Regions from separate parts of the Homo sapiens genome. Here regions 1, 2 and 3 are each linked to region 4. The links come from fine-mapping of genetic effects on gene expression. A gene starts in region 4. Each other region holds a variant in brackets. All regions are shown on one strand. Distances are from middle to middle. Region 1 has its middle 46 kb from the start of LINC01335. Region 2 overlaps LINC01331 (long intergenic non-protein coding RNA 1331). Region 3 overlaps LINC01331 (long intergenic non-protein coding RNA 1331). Region 4 holds the start of ENC1 (ectodermal-neural cortex 1).

Region 1 (8,107 bases), 380 kb before region 4:
GGCCACTCTGCATGGAACACAACTTTGATATCTGAGAAGCAGTCAGACTTTGCCCTTATGAGGAATCAACTTAAAGCTTGTAAAATACACCTGTGATTCTAGCATGATTTTTTTTTTCTTTTTTAGGCAAATAAGCTGCTGCCTCCTGGCTGCTCTGCAGTTTCTAAAGCCATTTGCATGTCTTCTTTTGAGGAATTGGCCTCTTGGTGCTTCAGGGAGGCTTTTGAGACAGTGAAAATAGTTTTACCAGTTGCTGCCTCCCAGTCACTCAGGGGTGATATTAAATCTGGGGGCAGTTAACACTCCCTTGAGAAATAAATCAGGGAGATGAAAGTCTCTCTTAAGCCCTACAAGACTCTCTGCTTTCAGGCATCTTCAATGTTTAAAAAACCTCTCCCTCACTCTCATTTCATGGCATTTCTCTTTGTGTTTCAGCAGACAGATGGAAGAGAGGATCTTCATGGGGATTTCCACTGGAAGCAGGTCCAAAGGAAGAAATCCTGCATTCCCAGAATATATTGTTCTTTCCTGTCCTTTGCTCAAATCTTCCCAAATTCTTGCATTTTGCAGCTGAGCATCTTGAGGGGAAAAAAAGAAAAAGAAAAACTAGGAAAATCAAATGTAAACATAATGTATAGATTATATTGTCAAATTGAAAATCAAATCAGAAACGTAATAGCTTTTATTTTTTTTCCTTCTTTTTATCCTTTTTCAAATGGAGATTAAGTCTTACACTCAGAAACATTAAGTCATACTGAAGATACAGACCATCTATTCCTGATCTTAGGACCGCCACAGATGTGTTGGCATCCAGAATACACTCCCATTCTCTACCTGCAATGCCCTGCCCTCTATTTCCAAACATCCAACTCCTACCGGTTCCTCCATAGTCAGCTTCTAATGCCCCACCCTCCTTGAAATTTTCTCTGATTTTCCTAGTACCACAGGTATGAGAGACTTCATAGTGTCCTGGTTAGTAGCACAGATGCTGAATCCAGTCTTCCTGTGTTCACATCTCAGCACTGCCTCTGGACATCTGTGCAACCATGTACAAGTTGCCCAGCCTCTCTGTGTACAAGTCTCTTCTCCTACAAAATAAAGACACAAGTAGAATCCACTTCACAGTTCTAAAATTAAGTGTTTTGATATACTTGAAACACTTTCAAGAGTGCCTTACCTATAGTAATCACTCAAGTATTAGCTACTATTAATACTCTATTACCTTTTTTATTTCTCATGGGAGTATCTGAATGCTTTCTATTGGCACCCATTTTTGTAAGATATTTTGCCTGTATTCTTATTTGAAACCATATTTTATCTTCCATCTCTTAAGGGAAAATTTGGGGCTCCATTCTGTTTTCCTTAAAGTCATCTGGTAGAAAAGATGGATTGACTACCAAGCTCGAGAGCAAATAAAAATGGTGTGTTAGGCCACACAGCCTCCTTGACATCTGGAATCGAGGTACAGAGAGGCAAAATTAAAGGAAGTATCACAGAAGACTTGAGTTGTGAGCAGAGTATATAAGGAAAGAAGGGCATGAAATGACGAGAGAGAAAGATTGCAGGGTTCAAAGAAAAATGTGTGGAAAGGCAGGGTACCACCGGGTCGGGCGTGTGTAGGGTGAGGGATTGAGGGAATGGTGGAAAAAATTTTTACCAAGACTCTAACCTAAGGGACCACTGTGATTTTTTAGAAAAAAAAAACCAACAGCTTCCTTTGGCATCCAAGTAACCACGGCTTCTGTGTCTTTCCAGGGGGCGCTGCTTTTCACCCTGCCCAGTTCCTTCCAAAGCACCTCCACTTTTGCCAAGGGCAGAGGAAAACAAACCCATGGACCTCTGTGCTGCCCACTCGCACTCTCTCAATGACACCTGCTGCCCTCCTCCACCTCCATTCCCTACCCTCAGCTCCACTCGGAGCCACTCCTAGTCCTGAGCCCTGCTGGATTCTCCCTGCCAACCTTGCCCTCCCCCAACCCCTGCCAGGCAGTGCAGCTTCCCTGTGGGATACCCTTGGTGCCAGGCAGATGTTCTCTCCCATGCCAGCAGAAAGAATGAGCTCCCATGGGTGGCCTCTTGCGTGCTCTCCCTCTGTACCCAATTGGGGAGGTTCCCTGTGCTCTGAACCACTCATGAGGCTAGGACTCAAAGATATCAAAGCAGGTGGGTATGCGCGTGTGCCAACACTTCAGGAAGGGACTAGATCCTGAGTATCCGTGTTAGTGAGAACACCAAAGATCATCCGGTTGAGCCCCTCATTTTAGAAATGTGGAAAGGAGGCTCAAAGACACACGACCTGCTGCATGTCACACAGCAACTTTGCTGCAAAGCTAAGGCTCCTTTCATTCCTTTAACCTGTGGGAAAACCCCTTCCAATTCAGATGCTGTTGTTTTCTTCTCTCTGGTCTCATTTCCCATATTGAAATTATACTGAGTTTTAATGAGTAGAATGTCAAAAGCATTTAGAAATATGATCTTCAAACTCTTTTGACCATGACCCACAGCAACAAATAAATTTTTTTCATTAGCCAGCATATATAACTGAATGAAAGGGTTTGTGATTCAGTACTTATCCTTCCTAACTGTGATGCATAATGGTATTTTTCTATTGCTGGGAAATATTGGTTAGGCCCACTAAATTGAATTCAGGACAGACAATTTAGAAAACATTGACTTGGGAAGTGTCTTTATGTGGGAACCACACAAGAGCAGATGAGACAAGGACTTTACTCGGCAGGTGAGTCCAGGAAACACCAAAGTGGGGGTGAGAAAAATAAGATGGGAAAAGAGAAAAGCCACAGGCCACTTGTGTAGGTAAACTGAGCCTCAATCCCACGAGGACCCTCTAAGAAACTGTTTAGCATGCACCCTGAAATTATCCCACCATGGTTGGGGGACCCCAGGTACTTATCCATGGACTTCATAGCCTTATGTTGAGGATTTTCACTGGGAATATTAAATCCATAAAACTGCTGCACTGCTCTGGGAGTGAGGCCACAGAAAGCCCTCAGGCAGAGAGAAGCAGAGAAAAGCAGAGGGTCTAGGTGTTTGGGGCGGGAAGCTGTCAGCTGCAGAAGCCATCCACTTCTGCTGCAGGTGAACTCAGGGTGGCGGGAAAGGGACCTGGAGGTGTGTTAACAGCAGCTGCTGCAGAAAATACCATGTTGTCTGAGGCTGCTGTGCCCTCCTGTAAAGCATCCTTACTTGGTTTCAAAAGGAAAAAGCCGACAGAGCACGGTGGCTCACGCCTGTAATCCCAGCACTTTGGGAGGCTGAGGTGGGCAGATCACCCGAGGTTGGGAGTTTGAGACCAGCCTGACCAACATGGAGAAACCCCGTCTCTACTAAAAATGCAAAATTAGGCGTAGTGGCGCATGCCTGTAATCCCAGCTATGCAGGAGAATCACTTGAACCCAGGAGGCAGAGGTTGCGGTGAGCCGAGGTTGAGCCATTGCACTCCAGCCTGTACAACAAGAGTGAAACTCTATCTCAAAAAAAAAAAAAAAAAGGAAAAAAGGAAAAAGCCAAAAAGTGCCATGTAAGTAGAAAAGAAAGGGTTAACAAAATGAGAGATGCTGTTAGAGTCAGT[C/T]AATCCAGGAAACATACCAAACACTCCCTTCTCGTTTTTCACTTCATTGTAATATTGCTGACTTAAAGAAAAGGCCAGGAGAAAATTAACTGCATTCTGTAATCAAACTGTGTAGAATATTGCTGCTTGAAATGTTATGATCTGAAATGTCTGTGACTATAAATCCAGACCTTAATGATATAAAGATTTTGACTGCAGATTTTTGTCATCTATTTTTGGTTTTCTACCCACATATCTGGATGTCCAACAGCTAGGCACCTCTGTGATACTTGGGCCTGTAGAGTGATCCAGGAAGCCAAACAGAAGGCACTCACATATTTATTATCTAAAAAAACTTCGAAGCCCGTAAGGTTGAAAGACTCCATATAACTACAAATTGTCATCATACTACAAATATGTCTGGATAGACAAGTCCAATGGAAGACTGCATTTTCACCAAGGACTAGGTCCTCCTGTTCATTGATTGAACACACATTTCAAATTTCCCAAGCCTGGCATGTTTACACCCCAGCATGTGCAGTCCATCTGGAACATATGGACAGGGGAGGCGGACAGGCTCTGGAGCTGCTGGGGAAAGAGGCCTGGATGCTTGGCTCACTTCTGCCTGTAGCTTGTTGCCTTGGACAAGTTCTCTGAACCCAGTTTTTCTGAATCAAGAAAGCACTTTGAAGGGTAAGAAAGGGCTATGTCCTAGTCCTGGATAAAGGATCAAACAGAGAATTGCATCTTCTTAGTTGCATAATTTGCGATGCCCCACTGGTCACTGCCTTGACCTTTCTATCCAATTTTCAGATGCATAAACTACAAATGAAACCAGATATTGGAAAAAAGTATCAGGGCTTATTAAAATGGGACTCTCTGTCTTGCTTTTCATAATCATCTTGCTTTAAGCTCCATACAAGATCTGAAAAAATGGATATGCTCTCTTTTTATGCTTATTTTTATCACCATTGTTATCATCTACTCCCATACCAGCACACTTACTGAGTGCCTACAGTGCACAAAGCATTGTGCTAAGTAATCAATGGGGATTCAAGGCCCAATAGTCACAGTTCTCAAGAGGATTTTATTGAAAGTTAAAACTTACATGTATAAATAGAGATATAACATCATGAGGTATCATGTGATAAAGACAAGATAAGTGGCCTGAATAGCTGATGCCATCAAAGGTTAGAAAAGCCCTTCTGGTAAAGCAGGCTAATATCCTGTGATTTGCACTAACCCTCAACAACCATTCCTTCTCTTTTTAATATTTACAACCAGTTCTCCACTGGATACTTCTTATAAGATTTTAAAAGGCTCAAGCATTTTCTATTCAAAACAAAATTCTCACCAGGCCCCTTCTGACTAACTGCTACTATCCTGAGGCTAGCATCTCAAGTGTCATCACCCTCACTCTCCCCATTTCCTCCCTTCTCACTTACTCCACAACTGTTTGCAACCTGACTGCCACCCTGAAACAGCTGTCCTTAGGGTTACCAGTCACCAGCCTGCTATGAAATCCCAGGGACACTCTACAGTCTTCATTCTTCTTGACTTCTCAGCAATCCTAATCACTTCCACCTTTCATTCTTTTTTTTTTCTTTTTGACAGAGTCTCACTCTGTCGCCCAGGCTGGAGTTCAGTGGCACTATCTCGGCTCACTGCAACCTCTGTCTCCTGGGTTCAAGTGATCCTCCTGCCTCAGTCTCCTGAGCAGCTGGGACTACAGGTGCACACCACCATGCCCAGCTAATTTTTTTGTACTTTTAATAGAGATGGAGTTTCACCATGTTGGTCAGCCTGGTCTCGAACTCCTGACCTCAAATGATCTGCCTGCCTTGGCCTCCCAAACTGCTGAGAATTACAGGCATGAGCCACCTCACTCGGCCCCTTTCATTCTTAAATAAGCTCTTTTATGGCATAGAATATAATATTATAAAGTGCAAAAATCATGAACATAAATGTTTACAAAATGAACATACCTTTGTAACCACCATTTGGATAAATAGGGTATCGCCAGACCCCTAGAAACCCCTGTCCTGGTGTCACTTTCCAGTCACTACTCCTACTGAGAGGTAACCACAAACAGTGGATGCTGTGGTGTGCCCCCCAGGCCCCCTCCACGACTCAAGCATTTATTCCCCTACTAGGAGTGTTGGCTACTAGCTGCTCTTAGCCTAGTCTCACTCGAAGACTTCCCTGGGTAAAGAGAGCCTTACCCAGGGTCCTGCACCATTCCTCAAGGTGTCTCACATCCAGTGACCAGTTGATCGTAAACGACTGGGATGTAAAGGCTGTTTGTGTGTGTGTGTGTGTGTGTGTGTGTGTGTGTGTGTGTTTAAAGACAAGGTCTCACTTCACTCTGTTGCCCAGGCTGGAGTGCAGTGGTATGATCATTGCAGCCTCAACCTCCTGGGCTCAAGTGATACTCCCACTTTGGCCTCCCAAAACACTGGGATTATAGGTGTGAGTCATCATGCCCAGCTGCCATCATCATTAGAAAGCTCCCCTTTAGGTTAGCTGAGGCCCTGGTTGTGACTTCATCACAGTTCACCTTTTCCTTCTGACCTTCACAGCATCCTTCATTCACTCTCATGGGCTGACCCTCAGGTCACACCCCAATTGACTTACTGCACACAAATCTCTGCTTCCTGGGGAATCTAAGATGTGATACCACAGACTAACTGCTAACATAGATTGCTTCACATGACTTTGAACTTTATAATAAATTACACAGTGTGTGCTTTTATGTGCCTGGTTTCTTTTGTTTAACATTCTGTGAGATTCATACATGTTGTACATAACAGTAGTTTGCTCTTTATTGTAGTATCATTTATGATATTCTTTAAATAAATGTGCCACAGCATAGTTATAATTTTTCTGTTTATGGCCTTTTAAGTATTTTCTAATTTTTGGTTATTATGAATAATACTGCAATAAACATTTGTGTACCTATCTTTTGGTGCTTATAAATAAGAATTTCTGTTGGGCATATGCCTAGAGGTATAATCGTGTTATATAAGGTATATTTATGTTCGGATGTAGTGAATATTGCTGAGGAGTATTCAAATTATCTTACCACTTTATACTCCAATTAGAAGAGCATGAGACTTCCCATTGGATTTGCTATCTGGCCCTTTATAGAAAAGGTTGGCCAATCCCTGAACTAAGCCAAAGAATGAGAGGAGCACAAGTATTAAGGCAGAAAAACACCTGATATATCTTCAAGCAAGGGTAAGAACACCAGTTTGTTTAGGTAGATAAGACTAGGTAGAAATACAGTTTGGATCAGAGATCAGCAAACTTTTTCTATAAAGGGCCAGATTGTGAATTTAGGCTTTGCAGGCCTTATGGTCTCTGTTGCAACATTCAACTCTGCCATTGTAGCTCAAAAGCAGTCACAAAAAATAAGCAAAAAAATGAGAGTGGGTATATCCCAATAAACCTTAATTAAGGACACTAAAATTTGTATTTTATATCATTTTAATGTTGTCACAAAGTATTACTCTTCTTTTGATTTTGTCCAACCATTAAAAATTTATAAGGAACATTCTTATCTTGTGGGGTAAACACAAACGGGCAGTGGGCTGGGCTCGGCCCATGGGCCATAGTTTGCTGACCCTTTTCGTAGATGGTGGAGGTCTAAATAATCTCAACTTATTTGATAAACAAAACATTTAGCATTCTGGGGGGAATGGTATGATGTATACAAAGCAGTGTTTCAGGGACTCTGAGCTGATTGCGGTATTTAGGATGAATTGGGGAGGGAGAGATTGGAGGTTGGATGACCAGTTAGGGGGCAGCATGGGTAGACCTAGTAAGGGTTGGTAAGGATCTGTCACCTGGTGATGACAGAGAGAGTGTGGTGAAAGAGATGGGGCATATGCAAGAGGATATTAGGAAGAGGTAAGAAAAAGATTTGGTGACTGGTGAGAGAGAAAGAAAGAAGACTCGGTGCCTAGCGCCAGGATTTTCAGCATGGGAGACAGGGTGAAGAGTTTGATGATAAAATGGTTGAGAGACATTAGAGATCAATATTTAGGGCATGGGTACTGGAGCCAAAAGGCCTGAATCTAAAGCCTGGCTTCCTGTTTTACAAACTGTAATCTCTCTGTTTCCTCCTCTGCAAAATGGGATTAATAATAGCATCTATTTCATGAAGTTATTATAATTCATACAAAATGCTTAGAACAGTGCCTGGCACATAGCATGCGCACTGCAGGTGCTAGCTTTTATTGTTAATTGTATAGTGTCTTTTTAAAAATAACAAAATAGGGCTGGACACAGTGGTTCACACCTGTAATCCCAGCACTTTGGACAGCCGAGGCGGGATGATCACTTGGGACCAGGACTTCAAGACCAGCATGGGCAACGTGGCAAAACCCTGTCTCTACAAAAAATTAAAAAATAAAATACATTAGCTGGGCATGGCAGTGTGTGCCTATAGTCCTAGCCACTCAGGAGGCTGAGGTGGGAAGAGCACTTGAGCCTGGGAATTTGAGGCTGTAGCGAGCCTTGGCTGCATACCTGTACTCC
Region 2 (8,107 bases), 230 kb before region 4:
AAGGAAGAACCATATCTTATTTATTTGGGTTTTCTTCTATTACTATTATATAATATTTCCTCTATTACTACTACATACTATTACACAGTATCTGGTGTTTAGTACATGTTTGATCATTGTTGAATGAAAAAATAAGCTCCCAGTTCAGGTTCTCTTCTAGTTTACCTACCATAGCCAGCCTGGCCAGGAGCTAGGAGTGTTCAGCTTGGAGCCAGAGGCAGGATCCCAGGAGCAGGTTAAGAGGAAGTGATTGACAACTGCCCGCAATGGCTCCTGCTGGGCACATTTTACATCCCAGGGTCTGGATCAAAGCTGTCAGTTTCTGCCCTGTCTGTTCCTAAGTGTCATAACTGGAGCAAAACTCCTTCATCAGCCAGTCTGGCCACATCACAGACACGTGGGTTGGACAGCAGAGGCTGCCTGGCTCTTTTCAGGTTCCTATGGATACAGTGTCTCCCTTGACCCACTGAATTCATCTGTGTGGGCAGCTGCCACTTCTGGACTACAAATACACAGTAAGCAGGCGTGTAGGAGAGCAAGAATAGGGTAGAAAGAGCACGTAGGAGGAGGGGAAGAAAGAACTGAGAGAGAGCCTATGGGTAGAAGTGGGCAGGAAGGAAGGTTTGGTCTTTTTGTTCCTACAGAAGATGTTTTTGAAAAGCTTCTTGACAATCAAACAGACTTTTGAAAAAAGTTACTTTTGCTAAATATAAAGTGTGAAAATCACCAGTGGAAGATTGCCTCCCTTTCTGCAGCCAGGGCAGAGCTCTTGGGTGTATTTTGATCAGTAACTTCTAGACACATCCTTCACAACCACAACTAGGCAGCCAAGCATTCTGACATGTGCTTAACTAAGAAGCAAATTAGGCAGCCAATTTGTAAAAATGTAATATGGCGTCCTTTCTCCCTTCTGCTTATTTCATTGATAAACACACATTCATGCACATTGATGTACATAGTAATAATAATATTAGTTTACATGGCTGACTCTACAGTTTCTGTAGAGCTTTTGCTTAGAGCTTCACAATAAATGAAGCAGGCAAACTGCATTGATTAGATAGTCCATGGTTTCCGAGTTACTCAGTAGAGGTGCAGTCTAGACTCAAACCCCGGACTCCAGCTTCCAAGAATAGGCACACTCATTCCCACACCCAAACCCCCCACCCCCATTCCATGCCTGGCTGCTGGCTAAGCCACAGGCTGCTCCACAGTTGGAGTGTAAGGGATAAAGAAAGAGGAAATGAATGGTTTAAGTTGGGAAGGGCATCTTGACAAAGTTGTTAGAGTCTACCAGTTTTTTCAAACCCCACATTAGAGTACAGCAAATAAATGCATGTCTAATCATCACTCCACCGGCTTCTAACTTTTTTGCTCATCACTTTCTCTGAATTTATACATGGAAGACTTTTGAATGTGGTTCCTACACTGAACCAATCTCCAAAATTAAGGTTATGGCTTCTGTCCCCATGGGGGCCTGTAAGTTGAGGTCCATATGGCAGCCTATGATGGCTATCCCCTCCCCATGAGCCACAGGATGTCTCTGGGCACAACACAATGCCTCCTTTTCAACCGCATTTTATCAGTTTCTCAAATATCTGTATTTGTGGGCCAAGTGATGACAATACACTACATTTATAGAACATTACAGTCTCTGGAGAGCCTTCTGTTTTATACACCCTACCCACTACACCCTCCCACCATAGGATTCCCTCCCTGGCCATGAGGCTGATAGGACAGATATCACCATTTTAATTTTACAGATTCAGATATAGATATATATATATTGAGACAGAGTCTTGCTCTGTCACCAGGCTAGAGTGCAGTGGTGTGATCTTGGCTCACTGCAACCTGTGCCTCCCGGGTTCAAGCAATTCTCCTGCCTCAGCCTCCCAAGTAGCTGGGACTGTAGGCACATGCCAGCACGCCCAGCTAATTTTTGTATTTTTAGTAGAGATGGGGTTTCACCACGTTGGCCAGGATGGTCTCAATCTCTTGACATTGTGATCCACCCACCTCAGCCTCCCAAAGTGTTGGGATTACAGGCATGAGCCAGGGCGCCTGGCCGCCTGGCTATATATTTTTTTGTCAAGCTCTAATTCCACAGTTGACTGAACTAAATGATATTTAGTTCAGGACCCAGGTAACTAACCAAAATTTAAGAGAGAAATTATTTGAAATTGAGAAAAAATATTTGACTCTTAATGCTGTTAAACATGATATGACTAACTCCCACTCTACAATGTTCTTCCAGTTTTCCCATCCATGGACTCTGCCACCAAGCAAAGAAGAGGATTTACATATGACCAACTTCAGCAGAGCAAATGGAGAAATTATATGGCTGTGTTCCAGCCCTGGCTGGTTACATATTTTATATTTTATAGCTATTTCTCTGTCAGAATTATAAATCAACCACACACACAAAAAGGTCTAATTTAAAATGGGGCATATCAGAAAATCACAACTCAGCAAAATATGGCATTTTCCTGACAAATACTGCATAACTAAACTATATATGCACATTCTGGTTTTAGAGACTGTCCAAACTACAGGGTGATTTGGGACTTCAGTTCCTCATCCCTGCATGCTGGACGGATTTCAAGAAGATAATTAAAGTCGACGGTACCTGGTATATGAAATCAAACACCCATCCTCTACTCCCTGGGTTTGGAAGATCAAAGATAATAAGCCTGTCATAAACTAAGGCAAAGGGCCACCAGGGAGTGACAAATCCCTATCAGGTTTAAATTTTGTCAGAACAGTCAGTGTAGAAATAGAGTTGGTGAACATGCCAACCCTCCCTGTAACCTAGTCTGAGCAGCACTGAAGGAAAACTGGCCAGGCCTTTCAACATGTTGGCAAAAGCCACCCCCTGACATCCTGGAAAAGAGCAGAGAATGGGAGAAATGTGCTGGAGAGCAGAGCTCATCTGTCCAGCCAGCACTCAACTTAACTGTGGCCAGAACCTGCCATTGGATATTTCCATGCAGTTATTAATAAGCTCTACACAAAAACTACCTGGAGGCTGAATCTGACTCTGGGATTTGGTGTTAAATACCAGAGGGTATACAGTGTCCTGCCAAGGATAAATTTTATAACCCTACATTCCTTTACTGGTGATTTATATTCCTTTCCTTATCAGGTTAGAAAGAGGTAAGGGTACAATCAACGGATTCCTTATCAAATCAAAAGTCCTAAGGTCTGGAATATGTTATTGAACTTGTGAACAAAAGACATTCTAGGATTTGAGATATCAATTCAACTTGTTTCTTGCACCATTATGATAAAAAGGAGAATTCTTTGTAGTTTATTATCTCACATCTACATTATCTTAATTTATCTTCCCAACTCTGCAAAGCAAGCAGAGCTGATATTCTGTTTGAGAGTGTGTGGATATGAAATTGAAGATCAGGGCCTGAATAGCTTCTCAGGTTCCCATAGCCATTTCCAGAGCTGTCTCATGTTTTCTGACCCCAAGTCCAAGTTCTCTCCAACACAGTCTTTCCCGGGCAGATTATAGGGGTTCTACCCACTTCAACAGCAGGTCTTCAAATAATGTTTCATTCAATATTATTTCGTTATAACATTGATGAGAAGGAAAAAAATAGATTTCTCCCCAGAGCCGCTGTCTTTGTGGAGTTTGCATGCTCTCCCCGTATCTGTGTGAGTTCTCTCTGGGTCCTGCAGTTTCCTCCTATATCCCAAAGATATGCACATTCAGTTCATTGGTGTGTCTAAATTGTCCCTGAGTGAGTGTGGGTGGGTGAGTGAGTGCACCCTGTAATGGGAAA[G/T]TGTCCTGTTCAGGGTTGGTGTCTGCCCTGTGCCCCAAGCTGCTGGGATAGGCTCTGGCCACTGTCGACCCTGAACTGGAATAAGCAGTTGAACAATTATCTTGCTTGTTTGTATTAATCTTAAATCTATGTATAACTCAAATTTATTTCAATGCTTAATATCCAAAGTATATTGGTGTTTATTTGGAAGTTCGATGTTTTGAGACCAAAAATATGCTGTAGGAACTTAACTCTTGTTTATATCATTTAGCCTATGGTAAAATTGGTTTCGTCATACACTATTTTGCTTATAGTTGCAGTTTCCAAGAACCTATCAACAGTGTTAAGTGAGGACTTACTGTATTGCTATCTTAATAGTCCCTGGTATGAGCAATTTATCACATAGATGAAACTCCTTTATAAAGAGGTACTTTTAGCAATTTGACAGCTGAAATCCTTCAGGTGGATCCAAAAGGTACCCATCTGGTATTGCATTCTGTTCTTTCTATAATGGTCTAGAGTAAGTTTATTTTAATAGTTTAACTATAAAATATATTCACATTCATTATTAATACATGGTTTATGCCTTTAAAACAATTAGTCTAAGGCCTTTGAACAAAATTTAAAACATTTTAAAAGCATCTTTTAAGGAACAGTTTGCATTGTTTATTCAGTTCAAAAAATATTCATTGAGCACCTATCAAGCATTGTCTAGGGCAGTAAGAAGGCAGAAGTGGTCAAGACAAGGACCCTCCTCTAAAGAGCTTAAACCAGAGAGAGGAAGTCAAATAAGAAAAAATAAATAAATGCATGTATTGCTCTAAGAACTAAATTGGAACAAGGGCAGAGGGATCCAGAAGCAGAGAAAGGGCACTTGATCCAGTTTCAGAGAAGGCTTTCCAGGGGAAATAACATCAATGCCAATAGTTTGGGAGAACAGAGTGTTGTAACATGTTTCCAGCCTCATGTGTACCTCCAGGGCCGCTGGGGAGCTCTGACGAATATTTAAACGCACATGTCCTTTCCCACTGCTTTGCTTTACCCACTCTACTCCTTTAGCCAGAAAACCTCCTCTTGAATTTTATTCCTATATCATCTTCATCATCCTTCACAGCTCAGCTTTAATGTGGTGTCTTCTCAGAAGCTTTCCTTGACCATATTTGAAGAAACTGAACTAAAGCTAATCTGAAAAGCTTGTAAATGCAAGACTCAAGTTCTATTACATTGCCCTTGATCATTCAGAAATTCTAAGCCCCTCAGCTAAATTTAGTCATTAAAAGATCACTGTCCATTCTTTAATGTTTTAAGAATAAGTTGTACTATTTCCTAGTTGACTGTTAGTGGAGCCTACAGGGGGAAATCATGGCCATTCCTAAATTTCTCCAAGGCTTGTGTTATTGCGGCATCTTGGTCTCCAGCTGAAGCCCTTGGGGAAAGAGATAAAGTTGCCCCTTCTGTTCCACTGGATCCCAGCTTGGGTACGTCAGGCAGCTTAAAGGGTGACCACCATCAGAATCCTTGGTCAACTGGTGGCAGTTTGGGGTGAAAACATGTCAAAATTACATTGCAATTTTTTTACTCTAAAATTACATAGTGGTTCCTTTGACCATCAGTAAATCTTTACAAATGGGACCAAAACAACTTTCTTTGGAGACACCATGGGACTAAAGAAAGAGACAATATTCCTATTATAGAATTTTGCAAACTCTCCGGATGTCCTAACAATAAGTTACAGATGTTTAATCCTAAATTAAGAAGCTAAATATAATGTGGACTTTACAAATGGCAATTTTCTATAATTTGAGGAAAATATCTGGTAGCTCAGTTCCCACTAGAAATGTTTGGCAATGGTTCTGCTCTCTGTTAAACATCTCTGGTATGATTTCCTAAGGACAGAATCATAGCAGAAGACAACAGATTTTTTTTTTTTTTAAAGAAAAACAACATAGAATTGATCAAGAAACTATAATTTGAATTTTCCTCTGGGCATGTGGGTATTGTTTTATAACTGAGAGAAGCATTAAAATATCAAGGGAACTACATTCATATTTGTATTAATTCTATTGAATCATTTCTTGGCTTATCATATTTTGTGTTATTGCCTTGTTCTCCTTTGTTTTGAAAAGAAACTTTATCAGTTTTCCTGTGTCATGCCATTTTATCTCTTCACTCTGCCTGCAATAAGATATCAGCCTAATATTGGCAGAGCAACTCCGTACAATGATCCTTTGTTCTGGGAAAAAAAATTGCATGAATAGTATATTATTAAAATAGAGAAGGAAGTGTGTTTCATTTGTTATTTATTTAGTGAATATTGTCATGGTACCAGGTGCTTTACAAAAGACAAATAAGTGAAGCAATAATACGGTGCACTTGGATCTTGCATTTAATGTAAGGATCTCTGAGTACTTACCAAACACTGACTCATAAATCAACTCACTTCAGATAGGATGTAAAGGTTGCTTTAAATCTACAGTCAACTTTGCAGAACCTGCTGTAAAAAATGCTCCACGGCACCAAGCACTGTACAGCCTGCCTTGCCGCATCTCTGATACCTCTGAGGACACAGGGAAAGATGAAATCACAATGGGAGTGGGGCTATGAGAGATGGTGGGTGAATTTTGAAGAAAGGAAGCTAGAAAAAAAAATGGTAACAAATAGAAGAGAATCTGGGAAACTGAAAGCTAAAGCAGTGAATTTCATAGACAACTGACAGATAACTTCAGGTTCTAAACAAATGCAAACTTGACAGCTGTCAGAGTAAATATTTTATTGACCTTAGATTTGGCTCTTATCTTTGTCTAACACATTCGTGACTTCTGAAGTTGGTTTCTTCTGCACAGGAGAAAATTTCTCGAAATTTTTCAAGATATGAATAGACTGGATTGTATTTTTCTAGTCACAAAGCTGAAATCTGCTCTATCCTTAATAATTATCACGTAGAATTTGCTGCATACCATCTTGATGTGAAAGTTGAAATTAGGAAAATCTTACCAACTCAGATCACACTAAATTCTGAATCTGTCGGAAGATAGCCAGAAATCTGTAGAAGACTACGCTTCTGAGATTTTTCAGGTAATGCCCAAGCAGGGTTACAGCTGTGACACAGCAGAGGCCAAAGGCAACAGACAGCAACCATTCAGGTATCCCTGACATCCCTCTGCAGGCCTTCACAGAGAGTCAAAACTCAATATTTCAAAATGTATGCTTTTTCTCTCGGAAGAGTTTGGTGAGCCCTATAATCAGAAAGAAAACAGACAGCAGAGGGCCGGCAGCCAGGTCTTCCAATTACTATTTCAAAATCAGGAACCAGAGACCATGCCTGTGCAGAGGATCTCAGCTTGAGCCTGGGTTTTCTGCCATCCATTTGCAGGGTCCAGGCCTCTCTTGGCTTAGGCTGGTGGCTTGGGCCAGATGGAAGTCTAGTGCATGGGGAATGAGCAGCCTCTTGGGAACAAGCCAGCATTGCACCTGCTGCTGGGAAGTGTGTGATCTGGGCACATTACAGTCTAGTGGAGTACCAGGCAAAATTCCACTCTCAGGGAAGACGCAGGTACCCCCAGGAGACAGCTCATTATAAGAGAGGAAGAAGCCAGGAATAGGGCTGAGTAACGAAGTCTTAGAATTCAAAGAGGGTGTAGGAGGGGTCTACATGGAGCAAGTGGTCTCTACTCAATGCCCAGCCCAATCCCTTAGACCACATGCTTAGGTCCTAGGGAGAGGCACCATAACAAAACTTGAGTAGCTGTTTCAATAGATGTTTTAGCCCACTGGGCTCATGTCCCACATCTAACACAGTGTGACACAAAAGGACAGGAGCCCTTCTTCCTGACTCTGCCAGAGGCCATTGCCAACTTTGGCACTCAGTGATTACAACTGTGCCTGCCCTGCCTGACAAGCCTCATAAGCTCAGCAAGAGTGACTCCAGGTTGGAGAACAGGGAAGAGGAGCTGCAGCCTGGGACAGCTCAGATCCATAGGCAGGAGGGCCTGGGGACACCTGTAAACCTCTCCTTGAGGACCCCTAGATTACTTGAGGGAGGAAAAAAAGAACATTATTAGAGAGCTTATGACAGCTGTTTGAGAAAATAAGGTATTTGGGGTTGTGATTCGAATAATTTTATGTGTCTGAACATTCATAATTTTCCCACATTTGCAATTTCAGCTATTGTCTGTTTCAAAATCAATACATGACAAGAGATTGCACGTTTGTCTTCAGAGAACATGAGGAACAGGTTAGATGAAAACCTACTCCACAGACCCTATTGGGAAGAACACAGCAAAGTCATGGAGTGGATTATTGGTGGAAGAAAGAGAAACAGGGTAATATTTTAGGTTCTG
Region 3 (8,107 bases), 210 kb before region 4:
AATCATCCCTCAAAGCCTAGCTCAGCATTGACCTCTGTGATGCTGTTCCCAACCATCGGCCATCTTCAGTGAAAGTTAATGATAGATAGAGGCAGACAAGGGTGGGTCCCTGGCGAAACCCCACCATCAAGCCAAAAAGCCTGAAACCCACAGCCTGAAGTGGGAACTTCTATCCCTGTTTGCCCACTCTCTCCTGATTGGTTCTTTCTGGCCTAGAACTCCTGACCTCAGGTGATCCACCCAACTCGGCCTTCCAGAATGCTAGGATTATAGGTGTGAGCCACTGCACCCAGTTGGTTCTTTCTGAATAATGTCTTTTTACCAATCAAATTTTGCCTTTTCCAAAACTACCTATGGCCTGCCCCACCTCCTATCCTGTGCCTATAAAGACCCCAGACTCAGTAGTAGAGAGGGAGAAGTGGCTTGACTGGAGAGAGGTGACTTGACTTCAGAGCGACGGCTAGACTTCAGAGGAGAGACAGCTTAACTTCAGAGAAGAGCCATGTGGAGACAGCCAGACTTCAGGGAAGATTACCTGCCCATCCTGTCCCCTCTCCAGCTATCCCCTCTCTACTGAGAGCCACTTCCATCACTAAAAAAAAAAAAAATTCTCTGCCTCCACCATCCTTCAAGTTTCCATGCAACCTAATTCTTCTTGGGCACTGGACAAGAGCTCAGGACCCACCAAGTGTGGGTACTCAAAAAAGGTTGTCACACTGGCCCTTTGCCCTTGCTGGCAGAGGACAGCCACCCAACGTGATGAGGCAAGGGGCCCACTGAGCTGATAACACACTGCTGTCCACAGATGGCAGAGCTAAGAGATCATCGTAACACACCCTCTGGGGCTTCGGCGGTCACAGGCATCCCCATCTGGGCACCACCATGGGGCCACATGGAACCTGCTCCTGCCAGCACCCAAAGCATCCAGCCAGATCCTGCACTCGCTTGCTAATGCACTCCCTCCTGCAAAAGGTTGAGCACAGTGGGCCTGGTAAATGGACCACCCCTGTAGCAAGTCCGATGAAGGGGTCAAAAAAAATTCCTGCATCATTAATACTCTCTGCCCTGTGTGGCAAGAGCCCCAGGCTTTCCTCTCCCAGAGCTTTTAACACATGACATTAGCCTTGTCTGTTCACCTCTCAGACTTCCTCAAAAAGTTCCCAGACTGAGAGCTCTTTAAGAGCAGAGATTGCTCCTTTTATGTCTAAATCCTCAGCACTTAGCACAGTCCTTACTAGTAGACACCCAATAAATGTTTGTTGAGTGATTGAAAGTCCAAATCTTTCTATTAAAAGAAAGAAATTAAAAAGAAAAAACGATCACTTTGCTGTCTTCTGGAACAGCTATCTAACCAAACTTCCCAAACCCAGTTGGCACCATGTACAAGCTGATTTCTGTTGCCAGCCTACCCCTGGATCTGCTTTATTGACCTCGATTATTTCCTCATCACTTAGCTAACTGACTGCTCCTCATTCCCCACTCTCCTTTCCCCCTCTGCAGCATCTGATGGCTTTATTTTTAAGTTTTGAGCTGGTCCATTTTCCTCTTCCACCATCTCATCCACCCTCTTTGTCTCAGCAATAATTTGTTTTCTCAGCTCCTCATTTGGTTATTTTCTAAAAGTGCTAGTCACAGCCACTCTCCAAAAGCTCTCAGTAGCTGGCTGATGGACCATTGGTCAATGGAAAGCAGCATCCTTACGCCAGTTTCTGGAAACTAGACAGCAATTAAATGAAGCAATGTGCATAAAGCACTTAGCAGTGCCTTAGACACTTACTGAGTGTTGTCATACCTCCATCCTGGGCAAACTGGCCTTCAAACTGGCCATCCCTCTTCCCATTTATCTTCGCTTGAATTCTGAGCACCACTGCTATAATGACATTCCTAATGCAGAGTGCCAATAAAAAGGAGGGGTTCCCAAATATCCATCCACAGCAAAATGAGAAAGATAAAAACAGTGCAGTGACCTTTCATCACATTACTTATATTCAACTCAAGGCTTTGCTCTTTATTGAGACTATGTACTTCTGCTTTCTGTGTTAAAATGCCCTTTTTATAATGAAACAATGGCAATTTTGTTTTGTTTCTTATTTCAGTATCTTTATTTGGGAAAATAGTTCACAACCATAAATGGCCTACATTTTGTATTTTGGAAACTATATTATCTAGTCTGTTACTCTGGATTTCTACAAGGGACCAAGTAATCCCATTCCTACATTCTTTTCACATTGATAAGAATGAAGAGTTTACTAACACATATAACATTTTAAAAGTAAGATATAGGCAGAGACCCCCCCAAAAAATGTTTATGATAGTAAAGACCTATTTGAGATGTTCACAGCCCTATTTCTTTTATATTTGTTTATTCACACATTTCAATGTCTTAATGGTTATTTGCCGTTAGTTTGCCTTTAGTTTTATAGGCACATGCATACTAATAGTGACTGTCATCAAACACATACACATACACACACACACACACACACACACACACTTTAAAGCAGGCAATTAATCATTTTCTCCCTCAAGACCGTATTTTACAGTCGGAAGCCAATTGTCAGCACATATGCTCCTAAATAAACTGACACACATACCAGCTAATAGATTAATTCGCATGAAGAAGGCGTCGTGGGAAGAAAACCTGTGTTCCCAGATTTCTCAGGCAGGTGCTCTGCCTGTTAACATAAAGATCAGTCCTCCTGGCTCCAACCCCTTAGGCAGTGTGCCCAAAATTACTTATGGTTTCTAACACAGTTGATGCCAATGCAGTTCTGCAATTGAGAGCCTGGTTTACACAACGTATCCTAAGAACAGCTCAGCTCAGGAGCAGCCAGTGTAGACTTTTTGTATGCTGGTGGGGGGGCGTTGGGGAGGAATTGTTTGTTTGTTTTGTCTCACATGTGGCTTTTCTAATAGAAGACAATCATGAAGCAATAATTCATGCCTTAATATTTCTTTGCAGCTATCACCCATTGTTCTTCATAGCCCTCCCATAAGTGGGTGATGTTATGGGTCCTGAGGAAATGGAGACCTATTGGGATGAATTTGTTCAGAAGAGAGAAGGCTTGCACACACGTGTGCATTCTCACAGGCACGCACTCTCTCGCACCACCCTCAGCACTCAGAGCTCTGCTAGTATCCCTTTCCCCTTTCTGACTTTGTATCTCTTAAGCCAGTCTTTTATCCCATGCACTGTGCCTCAGTGGAAAGTTCAGCTTCTCTATAAAACAACTTATTAAGGGAAGGATCACTATAGAGCTTCCTCAGAGCTCCAGAAAAGATAAGCTGACGGTCTGCTTTTCTTTTTCACCAAATCACCCTTCTCAGAGTATTAATGCAAAGAATAGCATGGAGGAGTGGGGAAGGAGGTAGGAGAACATATACATGACACAATTATTAGACTTCCAAAATCCTGTAAAAAAAAAATCTATCAATAGTATTCTGTGTTAGTTTTAGCTTTCTTAAATAAGCATCATCCATGCTCTTTTCCAAACAGGATTCACAAAAATGCTAAATGCATTTGCTGCAGACCAGTTCTGGGTCCTCAATGAAGAGTGGTTGGCAGTCAGGCTAGGGCTGCTCCTGGGAAATGCTGGAAGGGCCGGATGCTCCCCTGAGGAGTCTGTTCCCCCAGATCAGCCTAGAGGTCCAGTAGAATGGTTGCGTCCCAGCAGGATGTGACTCTTTGTTCTACCTATTCCTCTATTGTGACCCTTCAAAAATCCTACCTGTTTTCAAAGACATCATCCTCATTGTTCGTAACCCCCACCACCAACAACAAAAAAGCCAGATTGAGGCACCCGCTGAC[A/C]AAGCAACTCTCTTGTTCTGGCACCTTAAGAAGGAAATGAGTTTACTTCCCTTCTGTAACTGAAGCAAAGCCTTCCCTCCCCGCTGTGGATATGGTACCACTCTGTAGCACGTTTCCTTCAGAGAGTCAGCTTTTCTGAACAATGACCCAACTGTTTGTACAGTATGGGAAACTATCTCTTGATAGAGTTTGGTGCACACCCTCCTACGAACCCAGACATGCACAAAAGTTCCACATTTCACCACAGGAAGTAAGACTGGTCAGGCTTCAGGCATCATTAATCATTTTGAAGTGATTATTCTTAAAAAGAAAAAAAAAAAAAACAGGGATGCAGCTTGAGTTAAGTCATGCCCAATAAAAATCAGCACTTCTCCTCAAAATTACATTTCTCTACTTCCGTGTGGAAAGTTAAGAGCTCCCTGTACTGACAAGAGCTGGGGTGAAATCGAGAATCTTCGTCTCTTTAATTGGAGCACAGACAAATACTTGGGATCTGACATGGTCAGATGGGGAAGAGGTGGGTGGAGTTTTACTTCCTTTGCCTTTCGGCTCAGAAATACACACATTTAGGAGGAAGATAAAGCAAGAACAATTTGGGATTTTGTTCCGGGAACTTCATTTTCCCCCATTGAAATGCCATTAAACAAAGCTTAGGACAATCCTGCTACGTGCACTCATTTAGCCACGGGAACTATGGAGTGCCCCACCCCCCATCCCCATCACTGAGGCCCTGCAGCCCAGCAGGCAAGGGCCAGAGAACAATTTAATTCCCCAGATAGGCTGCCCCACACAGAGGTTCCTCATCAAGGGAGTAGCACCAGCCCACTCTGCAAATCTGTTCACCCTGCAGGAAACACCTCCTTGTCTGCTTCTTTGAAGTAAAACTGTTTCTCTAGCATGGGAAAAGGGATAAGTAGAAAATGAAATCTCCAACTCTGTCTTTCCTGAAAGATTACATTTCCTGCTATCCTGGTTCAGGAGGAAATTCACTTACATAAAATTAGATTAATTTTCTTTCTGACGTCACCTGGTCTACCAGAAGCATCTTTTGTCCATTGCCTCTTTTTGAAACCTTGGCCATGTCCCCAGTCCTCAGTCATTCCTTAATCAGAACATCTGGTTCTCAAGTCAAGATTAAAAATCATAAAATAAAGGCAGAAAAGAGGCTGCCTCTTCTGTCCTTGTTCCGCATTGCCTCCTTCACCCTAGTCTTGCATAATCACTATGTAGATGCCAGCCCAGAAGGCAGCATCATCTTCACTTCCTTCCTCATCAGCCAACTGCTACATATCCCAGCTAAGCCCTAGTATTTGTTTTAATTTAAAGGGTTAAAGTGGAAAAGAAGAGAATCAACAAACTTTATTTTAGTACTCTAATCTACCTATTTTAAAATGTAATACATGTTATTAAATAGATTTGGGCTTGGGTTGTTTTTTTTTTTCCCAGAGTTTAGTTGCTTAAACTCATTTTGTATCTACCCAAGTGGATCCTTTTAAAAATCTGCTAGGAGTCAGATTGAAAATGACTGACAGAAAGCCTGAGCAGGGTGAGAAATGGGTTCACATGGGATGGTGGCCTGGCATGGGGTTTGGAGCCCAAGCCAGGTAAGTGGGGTATCCACAGGGAGACATAAGCCAGAGTGCAAATGCAGCAAGGAAGGAGCTGGGAGTATGAGGTGTTGGAATCCAGGCAGCTACAATAGAAGAGGAGCTGCAAGGAGTAGGGGGCAGCAACAGAGCTGGGAGATGGGTTACATATAGGAGGATGGATCAGTTAAGTAGATATTTTAGGGATAACAGAAAGGGAGAAAATTAGAATGAACCCTGTGTATTGTTGCATTGGAATTGGATATTGATGTGAATGAATAGTTTTCAATATACATACATAAATATAGAAATAAATATAGTTCTGTCCATGGCTAGGACCTGGGAGCAATGACATCACAGTGGCAATGAGCGCACCTAGTGCCCAGATATTCACAGTATTCTAAATACTCTTCTCCACTAAAGGAAATTCAGGCTACTTAGAGAAACAGCTGATTTCAAACCTGGAAGAAAGTGTAAGATGAGTACAACTTCTCATCATGCCAAAAAGCAAGGAAGATGAGGTAGAAATAAACAAGAGTTTATGTGATGAATTACGTTTATTGATTTGCGTATGTTGAACCAGCCTTTCATCCCAGGGTGAAGCCGACTTGATCGTGGTGGATAAGCTTTTTGATGTGCTGCTGGATTCGGTTTGCCAGAATCTTATTGAGGATTTTCGCATCAATGTTCATCAGGGATATTGGCCTGAAATTTTCTTTTTTTGTTGTGTCTCTGCCATGTTTTGGTATCAGGACAATGCTGGCCTCATAAAATGAGTTTGCAAGGAGTCCCTCTTTTTCTATTATTTGGAATCATTTTAGAAGGAATGATACCCAGCCCCTCTTTGTACCTCTGGTAGAATTTGACTGTGAATCCATCTGGTCCTGGACTTTTTTTTGGTTGATAAGCTGTTGTTTACTGCCTCAATTTCAGAACTTGTTATTGGTCTATTCAGGGATTCGATGTCTTCCTAGTTTAGTATTGGGAGGGTGCAAACAGAACCAATGACAAAAACCACATGATTATCTCAATAGATGCAGAAAAGGCCTTCGATAAAATTCAACACCCCTTCATGCTAAAAACTCTCAATAAATTAGGTATCGATGGAACGTATCTCAAAATAATAAGAGCCATTTACTACAAACCCACAGCCAATATCATACTAAATGGGCACAAGCTGGAAGCATTTCCTTTGAAAACCGGCACAAGACAAGGATGCCCTCTCTCACCACTCCTATTCAACATAGTATTGGAAGTTCTGGCCAGGGCAATCAGGCAAGAGAAAGAAATAAAGGGTATTCAAATAGGAAGAGAGGAAGTCAAATTGTCTCTGTTTGCAGATGACATGATTGTATATTTAGAAAACACCATCGTCTCAACCTCAAGTCTCCTTAAACTGATAAGCAACTTCAGCAAAGTCTCAGGACACAAAATCAATGTGCAAAAATCACAAGCATTCCTATACACCAATAATAGACAAACCAAGAGCCAAATCATGAGTGAACTCCCATTCACAATTGCTACAAAGAGTAAAATACCTAGGAATACAACTTACAAGGGATGTGGAAGGCCTCTTCAAGGGGAACTACAAACCACTGCTCAAGGAAACAAGAAAAGACACAAACAAATGGAAAAACAGTCATGCTCATGGATAGAAAGAATCAATATAGTGAAAACGGCCATACTGTCTAAAGTAATTTATAGATTCAATGCTATCCCCCAACAAGCTACCATTGACTTTCTTCACAGAACTAGAAAAAACTGCTTTAAATTTCATATGGAACCAAAAAAGAGCCCATATAGTCAAGACAATCTTAAGCAAAAAGAACAAAGTTGGGGCATCACACTACCTGACTTCAAAGTATACTACAAGGCTACAGTAACCAAAACAGCATGGTACTGGTACCAAAAAAGATATATAGACCAATGGAACAGAAGAGAGGCCTCAGAAATAATGCCACACATCTACAACTATCTGATCTTCAACAAACCTGACAAAAACAAGCAATGGGGAAAGGATTCCCTGCTTAATAAATGGTGCTGGGAAAACTGGCTAGCCATATGCAGAAAACTGAAAATGGACCCCTTCCTTACACCTTATACAAAAATTAATTCAAGATGGATTGAAAACTTACATGTAAAACCTAAAACCATGAAAACCCTAGGAGAAAATCTGGGCAATATCATTCGGGACATAGGCATGGGCAAAGACTCCATGACTAAAACACCAAAAACAACGACAACAAAAGCCAAAATTGACAATGGGATCTAATTAAACTAAAGAACTTCTGCATGGCAAAAAAAACTATCATCAGAGCAAACAGGGAACCTACTGAATGGGAGAAAATGTTTGCAATCTATCCATCTGACAAAGGGCTAATATCCAGAATCTACCAAGAACTTAAACAAATTTGCAAGAAAAAAACAGCCCCATCAAAAAGTGGGTGAAGGATATGAACAGACACTTCTCAAAAGAAGACATTTATGCAGCCCACAAACATTAAAAAAGCTCATAATCACTGTTCATCAGAGAAATGCAAATCAAAACCACAATGAGATACCATCCCACGCCAGTTAGAATGGCGATCATTAAAAAGTCAGGATATAACAGATGCTGAAGAGGATGTGAAAAAATAGGAAGGCTTTTACACTGTTGGTGGGAGTGTAAATTAGTTCAACCACTGTGGAAGACAGTGTGGCAATTCCTTAAGGA
Region 4 (8,107 bases):
CTGACTGACATTTTGTTTCCACTCCTAAAAATAATAATAATAATAAATTGAAAATGATGCTCCTGATGTTCAGAACAGCAGAACGAAAGCAACAATGGTTTTGCACAAAAAACAGAACACTTTGTTGTTGACCATGCCACCTACTATTCTAGAATAGTGTATGGCCATTCCAGGACAAAGCCAGAGACAACTACCCGGAAGGAAGGATATTCACTGCTAATACTGTTGAGCTATTTGAACTCTGCACTGTTTAAAAAAAAAAAAAAAATCACTGCATAAAAAGCAGGTTCATCTTGGAAAACCTGATTGCCAACTTTCAGGCCATCGAAGTCTTTTAGAATATAAGTCAGCAAAAGCCAAGAGGAGTGAGTCTCATTCCCACAGCTCCCTGTCCTAGTCCAGCTCATTCACTGCGGGCCACTTAAAATGCCAGGTCTCCTGCTCTTATAATGCCAGGATGGGCACTGGCTTTCATGCCCCATGCAACATAAAGCCATGCGTAAAACAAACACCTAATAATTAATTCCATTAAGAATTCCTTTGGTAAGATCCAATCTCCCAGCACATACAGTAAATGGGAAATGTAAGGCCAACTTCTGCAATGATCAGACCTTTATTTAAATGTTACAGATAATGTATTTCATTTTATATATACTTTTGAGACCAAGTCTCGCTCTGTCACCCTGGCTTGAGTGCAGTGGTGCAATCACAGTTCACTGCAGCCTCGAACTCCTGGACTTAAGTGATCCTCCTGCCTTGGCCTTCCGAGTAGCTGGCACTAAAGGTGTGCACCACCAAACCCAGATAATTTTTTGTATTTTTTGTAGAGACCGGGTCTCAAACTCCTGGCCTCACCTGATCCTCCCACCTCGGCATCCCAACTTAAAGATTAATTTCTAACCAGACAGCTCTACCACTGAAGAGTCCTAAAAGCACCCCAATTTCAACATTAACCATATATTGATCAGCAAGCCTTTAGTCAAAGCACAGAATAAATTCTGGCCATAATCACCAACTACCTGTCTTGCTCGGGACAGCTTCCAATGTGAGGATTTGGCACATAAAAAGAAGAATATTTTGAGTAGCATACTTATGACTGCTGTTTTCTGTTCTTCCCGCTTTATATCAATTCTTGGAAAACCAGCTGCAAGAACAAAAGATCCATCCGTCTTTTGATTAAATAGTGCATCACTAGGACTGTTCCTGTATACCTGCAAATGCTGACACCTGCATAGAAGGAGTTCAAAATGCAAACACTGCTTTATTTAAATCAAAAAATACGTGTGTGTGTGTGTGTGTGTGTGTGTGTGTGTGTGTGTATTTTGCCAGCTGTTGTTAATTTAGGGCCACCCCAGAATTTATTTGCTGACTACAGTGCTTTCCTTGGTATCTACATTGAAATTATAGTAGAATCTAATGCTATCTTTTGGTTTTCTTCAGTAAGAAAACAGTAGGGTAGAGACATAGGAAATGCTTGTCACCCATCTTCAAAAACTGAATCACATGCCTTCATCCTTTTCTTTTACACCATCCCTCTGTTACTTCAAAGGAATGAAGTCCTCAAGAACCTGCCTGTCCAAGGATTCCTAAGGAAGCTGTTTATCCCGCTGTTTATCCCCAGAGGGTAAACTGTGTGGCTGGTTGCAGTATCTGTTCCAGACACATAACAGCCAGTCCCAAAAGCGCAGCTGAAACTCTGTTTCCTTTAACCATTCAGACATTTTTAAATGCATATTCTAAGAATTATTAATAAATGCAAATGAATGATTTGCCACAGATTCATGGGCTAAAATACTAACCTGCACCTCCCCAACCAGATGTGAGCCCCACTATAAGACTGCACAGAAAACCACAAAGGCAGGGGCATGACACATATACCTCATACCATTAGGTGATGCAACTAGTTTTCTTTCCTTTTTGGAATATAATTTTTTATGATGAGTAAACATGGCTGAGTGGAAGAAAGGAAGCAACAAAGTCCTAGAGCTCCAGTGTTAGGAAGACTTTACAAAGCACCCAGTAATTTCCACAGTGACTTGAGATATAAAAAATGGTGAGGAGCCAGCTTCACTCCCACCTCAAGCTAAGCATCTACTGTCTACTCCATTCTAACCAATGCCCAGTGTTTTGGAGAATGACCATATGAACCTATGGGAATGCATCAGGTTTCCAAAGGGTTAAAACATTCATTAGCATTCTCAATGCTCCACCACTGTAGTTGCTATTTTAATTAGTACATTCAATCTGGAGTATCTGGAGGAAGACTTTAAACCTAAACCTCAATAGACTGTCTACTTACTCTTGTGAATCTGCCGCCTCTCTCAGAGCAAATGCTGCCCTGAGTGAAGGAAGAATGAGGCTCCCTGAAACTAGGTGCACAGGCACCAAAATGCTTACACATTGAGCTGGAATCATGCTAGGCCCAGAACACATTTCCTTGAACATTAAATTCAGGATGGTGCAAAACAACATTCACAACCAGACTTACACCTAAGAAAACAATTTGCTTAGAAGACCTTAGGATATAGGATCTACATCTCTCCGCATCCTGTGTTTATGCTCCTGTATGTTCCAGGTTGGCCCAACAAGCCAGAAGGAAGAGCCTAGCCTGTCATCTTGGATACCACCCAGATGGAAAAGCACGTCACAGTCAAAATCACAATCAACATTCTTGCAACAATGTTTGATTAAAATAAAAAGTAAACTTGGAAACCCAAGAGGAAATACTTGCTTTCTGGTTTAAAACTGTGCAAACCTCAAAATATCAGCAGAAACCATGTATACAAGTCACTGAACACACCTTCAACATAAAATGAATCATCTTTCGAGCATTTTTAAGCCCCCAGAGAAATCACATTTGCATACCAAGTAAGTGGCCAAGAAAATGCACACATGTACTTAACCTACGTCTGCAAAGAAGACAGAGAAAGGGCTGCTATTACTGTGAACATCAAAAGGGCTTCAGTTACAGTAACTTCAGTTCACTTCATGCTCCTAACTCAGGCTCTCTGCCTCCAATGCTTAGCGTCCCGCACCCTTCTCCAGGTTTTGAACCTGATCTCAATCCAATCAAAAGAGAAACTAAGCAGATTTTTTTCTGGGCATTTACATTACCGGTAACAATAGAACATTATAAAGATCTTGTTAACAAAAGTAGCTTCTTGCCAGAGTCTTTTTATTAACACTTGCAACGCTATTTAACAAGCTGGCCATGCCTGTGTGACACCAAACCGCATGTGGATAAATTCAGTGTTTCATCTCCAGGCCCACCAATTCCTATCCTTTGTAACTAATAATGTTAACACGACAGATCAAGAAACTAGTTTTTCAGAAAGCAGTTTTCATTCATTCTCTATAGACATTTCCGCCGCAGTGAACATGCCCGCACTCAGGGTGTCTGTGCATGGCCCCAACTTTCCTCCAAGCCGGGGAGGATGCAACGTGGGCCAACCATCCCGCGCGCTCGGCCCTGGAGGCTGCGGGGAGCGACGCAGCGCGACATTCACCCCCAGGAAAGCGCTGCTTTCCGCAGAGGAGAGAGGCTGACTGTATCCTTAGCTCGGCTCCTCGCTTCCCCAGCGGCTCGCCCCAGACATTGCACCGCGGAGGGGAGGCCGGTCGACCTCTCCGGCGATGCCCGGCTTCTGCCTGCTGTGGGAGGGCAGCGGCGGGCACCGTGATCTCCGCACCGAGAAGAGCTCCCCTTGCCCTCTAGTCGAAGCTCCCGAGTGCTCGGAGCACGCTCACCCCTCGCGAACACACCCCTGCAGCCGAAGCAGCCCCTGAAGCCCGCAGCGCCTGCAACAGGTCCGGGGCAGTGGGGGAAACTTACAGCAGTGGCGACTGGCCGCAACGCACAACTGAGTTCTAGCGACGGTCACGGGCAAGGAGGCGACGAACCGGTCGTCTCAGCCCAGGGAAGCGGTGGCGAATGCCCCGGAGAAAGGAGGGCCAGCCGGGGAGAGGACTGCGCCCCGAACGATGGCTCGCGGACCGGCTACCGATGGCGTTCGCCTCCGTCTGTCGTCCCCACGCCGCGGACCCGGTGTCCAGGACCCGCAGAGCGTCTCCGGAGCGCGTCACGGTAGGGCAGAGCAAGCCTGCCACTGCAGGCGCCGCGGAAGGAGGCGGGCTGTGCGCTCGGGGGAGGGAGCTAGAAAGCGCCTTGTGTGCCGGCGGCCGCCAGGCGTCTGGACCGGGTCTCCGCAGCGCCACCGCCGCACCGCCTCCTCTCCGGCTGCCAGAGCAGTCTGCGCCCCGCCGCCGTGCGCCCCGCTATAAGTGGCGCGGCGGGGAGGGGAGGGGGCGCGTATGCAAAGAGACCGACACCGGGGGAGGGAGGAAGCGCATTAGCGCGGCCTGTGGTGTAGGAGGAGGAAGAGGAGGAGAAGGAGTGGGAGGAGGAGAGGAGCTAGAGAAGAGCGTGTCGGGGGAGTTAATCGGGAGAGGAAGCGGGAGAGGGGGGCTGCGGGGAGTGCAGAGAGACAAAGCGGACGCACTGTCTCAGCCGCTGGCAGCTGCAACCCCGGGAACCGAGAATAAAATAAGTTTTCCCGGGTTCGAGTGTCTGCGCCTCTTTGGGCCAGCCTGGTTAATGGACAGCCCCGGATCTGAGGGACCCACCTTAGGGGAGCGCAGCCCGGGGCTGTGCGCTTGGTGATGCCAGAGCCCGCGAGATGCTCTAAAAAGGGCTGCAAGGGGCGAGCTGGGTATCCGCAGGACAGGCCCTGGGCACGCATAGACAGCGCCTTGGGTAGGACACCCAGAGTGGGGAGAGATAGTGGCAATGGACGGGCAAAAGTCTGGACAGTTTAGGGACACTCGGGTTGAGCAAGCCAGGACGTTTAAGTTTCTTGCTGGCAGAGAGCCAAAGAGACTCCAGCCCCAGGCATTTCCTATGTGTCCTCCCTCCCCACTCCCCAGTGGGTGCGGCACCCCCGGCTGGACTCTGCCCTAAGCCAGGCGACTGCAGGGGCAGCCGGGGCGCAGTCCTGCGGGGCGCGCACCACGTGCTTTTCAGCCAATCGCCGCGGCCGCTTGATTCAAAGTGAACTCCTCAAAGCAGCAGCCACGCCGCCTCCTCTCCTAGCGATTAAGCCTCCATCACCTTCTCCTGTTTTTTATCGCTCGGTGGTGTTAGTTTGGAGTTCAGTAAAGAAATGGCCCAGCACACACACACGTTTAATAGTCCCGCGTGTCAGGAGAAGGGAAGGCGATTCGAAAAATAATCTCGCGTGGTGATCACTTTTACGAATCCCATTTATCTTTGCAACTAGAGGCTTGTCTTTCCACTGGGAGTTAAAATATCTGTCTTTTATTCGGTATTTGGAGCTAAGTCTATAAATGAACGGGATAGATGACCGGTCCAGCCCCCTTGTTTTACAGGTGGGGAACCGAGGCCCAGGGAGATGTGAATTGCCTGGCTCGTAGTCACTTAGCAACAATGTCCCAGCTCTGCAGCTCGAGAGTGAGGGCCCCACGACAGAGTTTATTCCGTCCCCGGGTCCCCGCGTCCCCAAGCGCCCGCGCTTCGCCTCCCAGCTTGCTTTAAAACACTAGGCGCAGGAGCGATTTAAACTGGCTAAGGAGGCCCCACATGGCGCTTCCAGAGTCCAGACTGCTGAAACCAAGACTGTCAGTTCTTCATTCTAATTTCATTTTCCTTTATCCTTGTTCCTTCCTGGTATTTGCGCCGAGAAATTTCGCTCCTTGCAAACAAAGAAAGACAGTGCCCTCTGAAGTCCTTTGTTAGCATTAACTCGGCAGCCTCACCACGAACCTTTCAATATATATATTTTTTAATGCAGAGTCTCGGCTTGAGGCTGATTCACAGAGACAGCCCGGATCAATTCATGTCAAGAACCACGTATGGAGAGCCAGGGGGGCTGCGAGGTTAGGAGAGGGCTGGCAAGCAGCACCCAGGTTCTGAAGCAAAGACCAGACAGATGGAAACTCTGTAGACTCCAGAGATAGGTGCTGAAAAGATGGGAGGCGGAAATGTGTAACTATTGCACATATGTCTTTTTAAAACATGTTTCTGTAGCCTGTGGCAAGGTGTGGGGGAGCTCATCAAGGCAGCCACCAACGCACCTTTTAGACACCTCCTAGACCCACTCTGTCTGCTTCCTTTGTGAGTCAAATCTACCTAAAACGGCACCTAGATGACCTTGCCTAGAAATGGACTATGTACATAGCTCAGCTGGTTGGTTGGGGATTTTGCCACAGGAAGCGACAGAACTAGGGACAGGTATGTATCTTTACCACCTAGAAATTGCGGGATGTCCTTAACCAAGGGAACAGCAAAGTTCAGATCCCTTTGCAAAGAACTTTGCTAAGCAGGCAGGGCTGAGAAAGGAAAGAAATCCGCTGGCCATTGTGTCACCATCCGCTGGTGCCACTTTCCTGTATCTTTTCTACCTAATGTTGCCACTTTCTATGCTTCAATAGAAGAAAGGGAAAAAAAGCTGTAGACTGGAAAATCTTGAAATGCATTCAGTGACCGTATACATTCGCTTCATCTGCCTCGGGGAGATAAGCAATACAAGAGAAAAGAAATTAGCTTATGTAAGTCCTAAAAACTGGAAAACATTTTCCTGCTGAAAGTCACAAGAACTAAACTTGCAAGTTTGGAAATCATGGGTGCTACTGATGACCTCCTACAAACTGTACTCTGGTTTGCTTGAGCCAATCTATGACTAGTTTTCGGGCAGTTGGGCAGTTTTTAATGCTTATCTCAGCTGAAAATGATTTGCAAGTTAGCAAATTTATGATCATAGCAATTCAAACGGTGTAATCCCACAGCATCTCTCAGCCAATCCTAAAGGTAACTCTTATCACCCCACTCACACAAAGAAAAGCTGAGCAAGTCTTCATTTTGTACAGGAAGAAACTTCTAAACAGGGCTGTCATCAAAACTGGACGACCATAGACATAGCAGATATCTGAGTCACAAACAAGTCAGGAAATGCTGCTTACACTGTATCCGCATTACACAATAGCCAACACTTCACACAAGACATTAGGCCAGTCCTGTAGGCCCTTGGGAGCAGGTCTTTGCCTCTGTCTTGTGACATCAAACCAAAGTCTCATTTTTTAATGCTATTAAGAAGCTGTGCCCAAGGCTTTGGGCTTGTTATCTCCCCTAACAATGTTATTTTGTTAGGCCGCAAAATAAGCAGCATGCGGTTAAATGTATTAGCTGCCTTCAAACCTAATTTATCTTCATTCCTTCCTAATTTACACTTGGGCTGAATTAATGAGAATGATTTAATTAACACGGTGCGATCATGGTACCAGGGACAGGACAGCTCAGGGAATTAGACCAAACAGTAGGCTAAGCAGCTGCCATCCTGCCTCCGGTGGTCTCCTGAAGCCCCACCCAAATTCAGACATGTTCCCTGCTGGTATTCCAAAAGCGCCCTCTTTGTTTTATGAGGACACTTTCTGAATCTGTGCAAGGAAGATAGCACAGCTTTCCTTCCCCGAGTTATTTGCTAGATGGACTTCAAGGCTGTGTCCTGGAGACAGAGTGTGGCAGAGGGGCCAACTGCCCACCAAAGATTTGTGCTCCCCTTCCATAGTGTCAAGTTCGTGTTGGGAAGTGGACGCCCAGTCAGGGACCACACCTCCCAGTAGCACATATGTTGCGATCAACATCCCTGAAGGGGAAGGGAGGGAAGCAGGGTGGACAGATGGAGATGCTGAGCTGGGATGTGGTCTCAGCCAAGCCTTGGCTGACGCCATGGGGACCTCTGGAGCTGAAATGGCCTCACAGGTTGTCTGCATTTAGGGCAAGAAGGCTTTTATAGGGCTACATCACCCAGTTGCTGAATGCAGCTTGCCCAGGGAAGGGACCATGGCTTTGGGCAAGGTGGTGCTCTTTTGCTGAGGGAGCTGCCAGCACACACAGAGGCTGGAGGAATAAGCCCTCCATTCCCAAAGGAGGATCTGAAGACCTCAGAACAGTGAGAATACAGATATACAAACCTAGGAAAATGAGACCTCAGCTTCCATCAGCAATCCTCTTATTTTTAAAAAGAGAGAGAGAGGAAAGTCTGGCTGTTTATTAAAGAGATGAGAATAAGGAAAAACACAGGTAATCGATACA

Evidence for each region. PIP is the estimated chance that this variant, and not a neighbour inherited with it, causes the effect.
Region 1: its variant is fine-mapped to the expression of ENC1 in whole blood (INTERVAL, PIP above 0.99).
Region 2: its variant is fine-mapped to the expression of ENC1 in whole blood (INTERVAL, PIP 0.98).
Region 3: its variant is fine-mapped to the expression of ENC1 in whole blood (TOPMed, PIP above 0.99). The same link has a PIP of 0.9 or more in neutrophils.

The regions. Positions count from the first base shown.
Region 1 is chr5:74,258,003-74,266,109 of GRCh38, forward strand. No RefSeq gene overlaps it. Among named protein-coding and RNA genes, the nearest start is that of LINC01335, 46 kb to the right of the region's middle. The variant C/T (reference allele first, on the strand shown) is at 3,590.
Region 2 is chr5:74,402,308-74,410,414 of GRCh38, forward strand. All of the region lies in intron 2 of LINC01331 (long intergenic non-protein coding RNA 1331), which reads right to left. Among named protein-coding and RNA genes, the nearest start is that of LINC01333, 85 kb to the left of the region's middle. The variant G/T (reference allele first, on the strand shown) is at 3,789.
Region 3 is chr5:74,429,708-74,437,814 of GRCh38, forward strand. The region is part of intron 2 of LINC01331 (long intergenic non-protein coding RNA 1331); the gene reads right to left. Among named protein-coding and RNA genes, the nearest start is that of LINC01331, 100 kb to the right of the region's middle. RefSeq lists an enhancer at 4,031-4,120. The variant A/C (reference allele first, on the strand shown) is at 3,809.
Region 4 is chr5:74,636,475-74,644,581 of GRCh38, forward strand. ENC1 (ectodermal-neural cortex 1) reads right to left here and starts at 4,254. Exons shown (of 3, transcript NM_003633.4): 1 at 3,833-4,254; 2 at 1-24. The coding sequence starts at 11. It also overlaps a transcript of HEXB not described here. RefSeq lists enhancers at 3,703-4,062, 4,524-5,239, 5,240-5,953 and silencers at 4,103-4,362, 6,870-7,164.